Linked DNA regions of Homo sapiens. Changing the gene in region 1 together with any one later gene gives a genetic interaction. Each region holds a gene or a part of one and is shown on either strand. Other genes may lie near its edges. The genes, in order: LONP1 and PITRM1.

The links.
Region 2: changes in LONP1 (region 1) and PITRM1 together harm fitness more than expected from each alone (negative genetic interaction), as found in Homo sapiens cells (one large-scale study listed by BioGRID).

The regions. Positions count from the first base shown.
Region 1 is NC_000019.10:5,693,528-5,696,255, reverse strand, and holds part of LONP1 (lon protease homolog, mitochondrial isoform 1 precursor), read left to right. Parts: coding exon 1-7; intron 8-85; coding exon 86-202; intron 203-1,354; coding exon 1,355-1,495; intron 1,496-1,703; coding exon 1,704-1,869; intron 1,870-2,486; coding exon 2,487-2,704; intron 2,705-2,728. UniProt on the Homo sapiens protein: ATP-dependent serine protease that mediates the selective degradation of misfolded, unassembled or oxidatively damaged polypeptides as well as certain short-lived regulatory proteins in the mitochondrial matrix.
Region 2 is NC_000010.11:3,162,755-3,166,576, forward strand, and holds part of PITRM1 (presequence protease, mitochondrial isoform 2 precursor), read right to left. Parts: intron 3,627-3,822; coding exon 3,475-3,626; intron 2,774-3,474; coding exon 2,659-2,773; intron 2,581-2,658; coding exon 2,484-2,580; intron 1,132-2,483; coding exon 971-1,131; intron 1-970. UniProt on the Homo sapiens protein: Metalloendopeptidase of the mitochondrial matrix that functions in peptide cleavage and degradation rather than in protein processing. Has an ATP-independent activity. Specifically cleaves peptides in the range of 5 to 65 residues.

The DNA.
Region 1 (2,728 bases):
GTCCAAGGTGGGGGGCCTGTCTGGGGCCTGGGCTTGCTGGGGAGGGTAAGCGGCCAGTCCCCCAGCACCTTGCCGCCGCCCCCAGGTGCTGTTCATCTGCACGGCCAACGTCACGGACACCATCCCCGAGCCGCTGCGAGACCGTATGGAGATGATCAACGTGTCGGGCTACGTGGCCCAGGAGAAGCTGGCCATTGCGGAGGTAAGCCCAGCCCCTCCCCACTGCTGTCCCCTTCCCAGAGCAGGGGGCGCCCCCCAGAGCCTGCAGAGGCCGTGCCTCTGGGAGCTCCTGGGCCCGGGAGAGACAGGTGGGACCTGCGGCCGAGGAGCAGATGGGGCCGTGAGAGACACACCAGACGCTTGCGAGCAGCTGCAGGTGGCGCGAGTGGGCGCAGGGTTTAGGGCCTGGGACTGTCCAAAACACCGCCCACCACCGTCAGGCCACACACTCTGTCTCCCGGGGCCTCCAGGCTGCCCCATGGTGGGGCCCCCACCTGGCCCAGAGTGTAGGGAAGGTTTCTGGCAGCCGGAAGCAGTGGGGCCTGTGGCTCCCACCCAGAATGAGGCTTGGAGGAGAAGTGGTTTCAGTGAGGAGCATGCAGGGGCCCATATTTCTCATGTGTTTTTTTTTCTGCAAAGGTGCTGAGTGCATTTCTCCCCTAGGAGCCCTTTGACAGCCAGTGGTGGGCACTGGTCCCTGCCCTTGAGGCCCTCCCAGCATCCTCGTGTCCCCTGGGGGCTTCAATGCCCACTGCTGGGCCCAGTTCCCAGCCTGACTTCTCCAAGGGACGGGCCTGTAGTTCCTGGGGACAGGACTGGGGGGCATGGGGACCCCTCAGGGCATCAGGAGTGCCCCCCAGTATCAGTGGCAGATGTAGAGTGGCTTGCATGGCTCTGTCCGTCTCACAGATGCCCTCCCCCATGCCATTAGAGCTCAGAACTGTGGCAAGAATTGTGTGGGGCTGTGGGTGACCCTGGAGCCCCTGACCCAGTCCCCTTCCTCATGTGCTGAGGGCAGCAGCCACGTAACCAGTCAGCCACCCTACAGGCCCTGGGTCTGTGTATGGGGCCAGCCCATGGGGCAACCAGGAGGCCTTCCTGGAGGAAGCGGCATCTAAGATACCATTGGGGGATAGGAAGTGGATCCAAGCAGAGGACGCAGCACAAGCAAAGGCCTGGGGCCTCTGGGCATGGTGGGTGGCAGGGCGGGGTGTCCAGGCCCTGGTTTCACCATCAGGGACCTCGTTCCCAGGCCAGGGTCTGGGGGCCATGGGAGAGGCATTGGCTCCCAGGTTCTAGACTGAGCTGGTGGGCAAGGTCCCTCCAGACCCAACCCTGACGGTTGCCCTTGCAGCGCTACCTGGTGCCCCAGGCTCGCGCCCTGTGTGGCTTGGATGAGAGCAAGGCCAAGCTGTCATCGGACGTGCTGACGCTGCTCATCAAGCAGTACTGCCGCGAGAGCGGTGTCCGCAACCTGCAGAAGCAAGTGGAGAAGGTGAGCGGCCAGCCCGCCCTCCTGGCACCTGCCGCCCACCTCACCATCCCACGCTGATCACCCCACCTTTCCATGCCCATCATCCCACTTTCCTGCGCCCATCACCCCACCACCCCGCGCCCGTCACACCTTTCTGTGCCCGTCACCCCACCACCCCGCACCTGTCACCCCACCTTCCCGTGCCCATTGTGTTGCCCTGACCGCCCAGGTGTTACGGAAATCGGCCTACAAGATTGTCAGCGGCGAGGCCGAGTCCGTGGAGGTGACGCCCGAGAACCTGCAGGACTTCGTGGGGAAGCCCGTGTTCACCGTGGAGCGCATGTATGACGTGACACCGCCCGGCGTGGTCATGGGGCTGGCCTGGACCGCAATGGGTGAGCGTGGTGGCGGGAGAAGACCCCAAAGCCATTCCCATTTCTACCCGAGAACAAGCAGGTCCCACCTTGTACACCTGTGCAGTGGGCCTCAGGTGGCTCTGAACGGCCTCTGGCGGGGGGTGGTGTGCTGGGAGCCCAGGGGGTCTGGGCTGAGGGAGGGGAAGGCTGTGACACATGGGGGTGGCAGCACACCATGGGCCTTATGGATTTGGGTGCCACTTTGATAGGCTTACAGGTAAGGACAAGCTCATCCAGATGGGCCTTGGGGCCACCACGCACAAAGGAGGCGAGAGGGCAAAGGGGATGGTGCGGGAGGGGCTGGAGAAGGGCTTGTGTCTGTCTGCAGGGCAGCGGCAGCTGGGCCTTGTAGCCCTGGGCGTGTCCTCTGTGGCTGGCAGCTGCTGGGGGCTGCCCTGTGGGGCGTACAGAGCCAGGAACCCGCAACGCAGCAAACGTAGAGGCCAGCGTTGGCTCACGATGGGACACCAACCCCTGCCCAGGGGCACCAAGATGCTAAACTGGGGCAGGAGCGGTCAGAGTGGCCCCGAGGGGTGGAGTGAGCACCGGCCTGGGCTCCGAGGCCTCCCGTGTTCACAGCTCCACACCTGTTTCAGGAGGCTCCACGCTGTTTGTGGAGACATCCCTGAGACGGCCACAGGACAAGGATGCCAAGGGTGACAAGGATGGCAGCCTGGAGGTGACAGGCCAGCTGGGGGAGGTGATGAAGGAGAGCGCCCGCATAGCCTACACCTTCGCCAGAGCCTTCCTCATGCAGCACGCCCCCGCCAATGACTACCTGGTGACCTCACACATCCACCTGCATGTGCCCGAGGTGACCGCGCCATCCGCTCCCACC
Region 2 (3,822 bases), on another chromosome or scaffold:
CACCTGGAAAGTGAGTGCGCCAGAAAGAAACTGGGCCTGCACACTCCTCTGCCGTCCCCTAGAGGGTGCCCAGGAGAAACCCGGGCCGACCAGGTGTGACCTGTGGGACCCCGTGCAACAAACACTTTGGGGCCAACTAGAAAATCTGAATATGGAATAAGAAATAGGCAGTTTTAAGAAAGTATGTTTTATTCTATTAAAACTGAAAATGGCATTAGCTCATGTAAGAAAAAATCCTCACGTTTTAGGGTCACAAATTCAAACATTTACGGGCAAATGATCATGACGTCTATAATTTACTTCCAAAAACTTCAGCAAGGGAAAGGATATCTATTACATGATAAGTGTTTAGGGGCTCATTATTCTAGTATCTCTACTTTTCTGTATGCTTCAAGTTTTCATAATTATTTTTACATAAAATAATCTTGCAAATATGTTTTTACATTAGCATTCATATGTAAATACAATTAGTGTTTTATATAAGATATATGACTATATTATTATTATAATGACCTTGTATTAGTGACATAAGAACAAGCAATGTATCAGAAAGTGAGGATGTAATTAAGGTTCAGTAACTGCATCCACTATTGGAAGAGCACTTCTCCGTGCCAAGGAGAGGGCTTCAAGCTTCACACCCCGTGTCAAGGTGGGCACCATCCATGCACCCCCACTTTCCACGCAACCAAGCTAGATGTGAGGCAACAGGCTGCGGGGCCAGGACCCTCCTCTGGGGGACTCTAAACGCTGTGTTTGTAACCACCATGCTGAGCCTCCTGAGGGCTATCATTGTAAATGTCCAAAATCAATGTCCAAGTAAGATAGGCAAACTTAGGCCAAGAATCTTACCTAGACTTAGATATTTCTTAAGCATTGCTAAATGTGAGAGAAGCCATGCCATAAACTGTTAAGAACACAAACAAGTCAACTTTTCACAATCCACCATCAAACTTTTCCAACAAAATATTACCTAGCATTGCTTGGGTGATAGTGAGTGGCATGAAACTGCTTAAGCTGCTCCCATGTAAGCTCCGGGATGCACAGTGGGTCACCCCCGGAGACCACTGAGTACGTGTGGTCAGGAAGAAGTCTGTTCTGAAGGTGCTGGGAGAATATCCTCTCATTGTCTGTCTTGAAACGTAAAATAAATAAATCATAAGTATACATGTAAAATAATACACACGTTACATTACTTACAATATAGCCAATTGATCACATTCTGGTGCATACACCTGTAATACTTTGCAAATAAAGCTGTTCTAATGGTTTAAAAAAAAAAAAAAAACACCCACGCAGGCATTGTTTAACACGGTATTCAATCATTCATCACCCACGCACAGGACCCAAGGATTGAGAAGAACAATGGATTTTTTGATGTGTGGTGCAACAAACGCATAGCTGAGGGCTGTAAATCGGGATGGATCAGTCGGTCTGCCCACCAGCCGTGAGGGAAGTGGGGAGAAGCTGTCACCCCAACTTGAGTTCAAGAAGACTCCTTGGAAGAAAAGACCACCAAATTGAGAATGAAAAGGTAAGAAATAGTTCACCAGCCGAGAGGAGCTACGGGAATCAGAGAGCAGGCCACCCATGAGCCTCAGGGACACCAGGACAGACAGGTTGTCCAAGTCACAAAGGGACATGAAGACATGGGCCCAGGACAGCAGCTCTTAATCCAAAATGGTCTCAAGAATCCTTTACACTCTGAAAAATTAACCCATTTATGCCTGAGGTTGCAATTTTTTTGTAAAAAATCAGACCTTGGCGATGACCTTGAGCTGTAGGACATAAATAACTCCCACAAGCTTAGGGTGCCAATAATGGAACACTAGGCATAAATGCGTTTTAATGAGGACCCAAACAGCTTTTGATTATGTGGGCGTTTTTGCCTGTGTAGGTGCCTGTGTGTGTTTATATAATTTTTCTATATTCTAAATTAAAGCTGAGACATTTAAAAAATACTTATTCATTAAGGTAAGCCATCATTACATGTTGATATAAATATTTTTGAAAAATACTTCTCATAACAAAGTAAAAAACTGATTAGAGTGGTGCTGTGTTGCCTTTTTTGCAAATCTCTGTAGCGTCTGGCTCAGAGGTGAAGCTGGACTCCCCCATTTGCTCTGTATGCAGCTCGCTGTGTGTCACACACCTTGCCATGCAGCCTCTAGAAAGTACACCGTGTACTTGGGCAAGAATGAATGAAAAGACACTGTCTTGGTAGTGGTATGAAAATAGCTTTTATCTCACAGACTTGCTGCAGATCACATACCAGGGGTCCCCAGACATGGTCTGAGACCTGCTGGGAAGAACAGCAGCCTGGCCCTGCTACCCCGACTTCTGCTCACAGCACTGACCCCAGCTAATTCAAGAATGTATCACCTATAATGAGAATATTAAATAAAATCTTCCAGATGTGTCTATATCATGATATTGTACATGGGAAAGGTAAGCTGAACACAACATAAAAAAGGAAGAAAACTTACAAACGCTCCCTTCATCTCATTAAAGACGACTCCTTTAAAGACCAAGGGCGTCTGGGGGTCGCTCGGATTCTCATGTTCCAGCCGCCATCCTTCCTGCCTGAGGACAAATCATTATAAGCTGATAGTGACTCAAATACTAAAGTCTGTATCAACTAGTTAATCATTCATGACATACCAGAAATCCAGCTCGCGTAAACATGGGAAAAAGGTGGCATCCAAATACACCGAGAGGAGATTCTGAAAGTCCTTGGGATTTTGTGTGGAAAATGGATACAGAGTATAATCACTAGCTGGGTACAAATGAAAAGTGAAATTGTAAAATATAACAGATTTCTACTAAAATTATTGACTCTCAAGACTCATTCCCCCTTTGTCCTAGGACAGTAAGCTGTAGCTATTCTTGGGATGGGGCAGTGGCCCCATGCTCTGGTCCCTGGCCTCAGCAGCTGTCCCAGCTCATAACCCCAAGTGCCGGCTTTCCCATCCCGTCTCAGGATCTGCACTCGACGGGCACCAGGGCTTTCTTCAGCGAATATCTAAACTCTCTCAAGTTTCTCCAGAGACTTTCATACATCTACAAAGATGACCTCATTCTGTAACAGCATGGATTTAACCCGCTCTTCAATGTCACTCCCCCACAGAATGCACTGTTCATCGTCACCCTATCCACTATCGTCAGTCTTACTAAAAGTCAAACATCAACATTAGTAGTAACTCTGGCATTGTAGCGATATCTCCAAGAGAAAATTGTTTTGAACTTTTCTGGGAAAAGTTCACATATGTTTTCTTAAAACGCTAGTTTTTACAATCTCGCTACCATGTGGCTTTCCTGAAGGATTAAATTTCTAATGTCCTTCAACTAGAGAGAGGTAAAAATTTTTCTAGAACATGAATTGCCCACTCCCCTCATTCCTTCTCAGAAACTAACTGAATTCCAGTGGGTGTGCCTGGCAAACCCAAAAGCAGTTTCTGTTCAGGATGCTGGTCTTACCTGTGAAGGCGTTCATGAACGTGGAGAGGGACCGGTTCAACATTTTGAAGAAAGGGTCTCTGCACGGATATTTCTGAGACCCACAAAGGACGGTATGCTCAAGAATGTGAGGAACACCAGTACTGTCCATGGGAGTAGTACGGAACTGCACGCTAGGGAAGGAGAATGACCAGAACGCAAAAGGTTCAGCTTAGTGCTGCGGACACAGTTCCCAGATGCATCATCACCTCAGGCTACTAGAAATCATCATTCTGACACCACAATCCTCCAGCACAGGGTTTTCCAACTATAATGTAAATCATTGACTCAGACTGTAAAATTGTATTTTGATGAGATTATAAGTCAGTG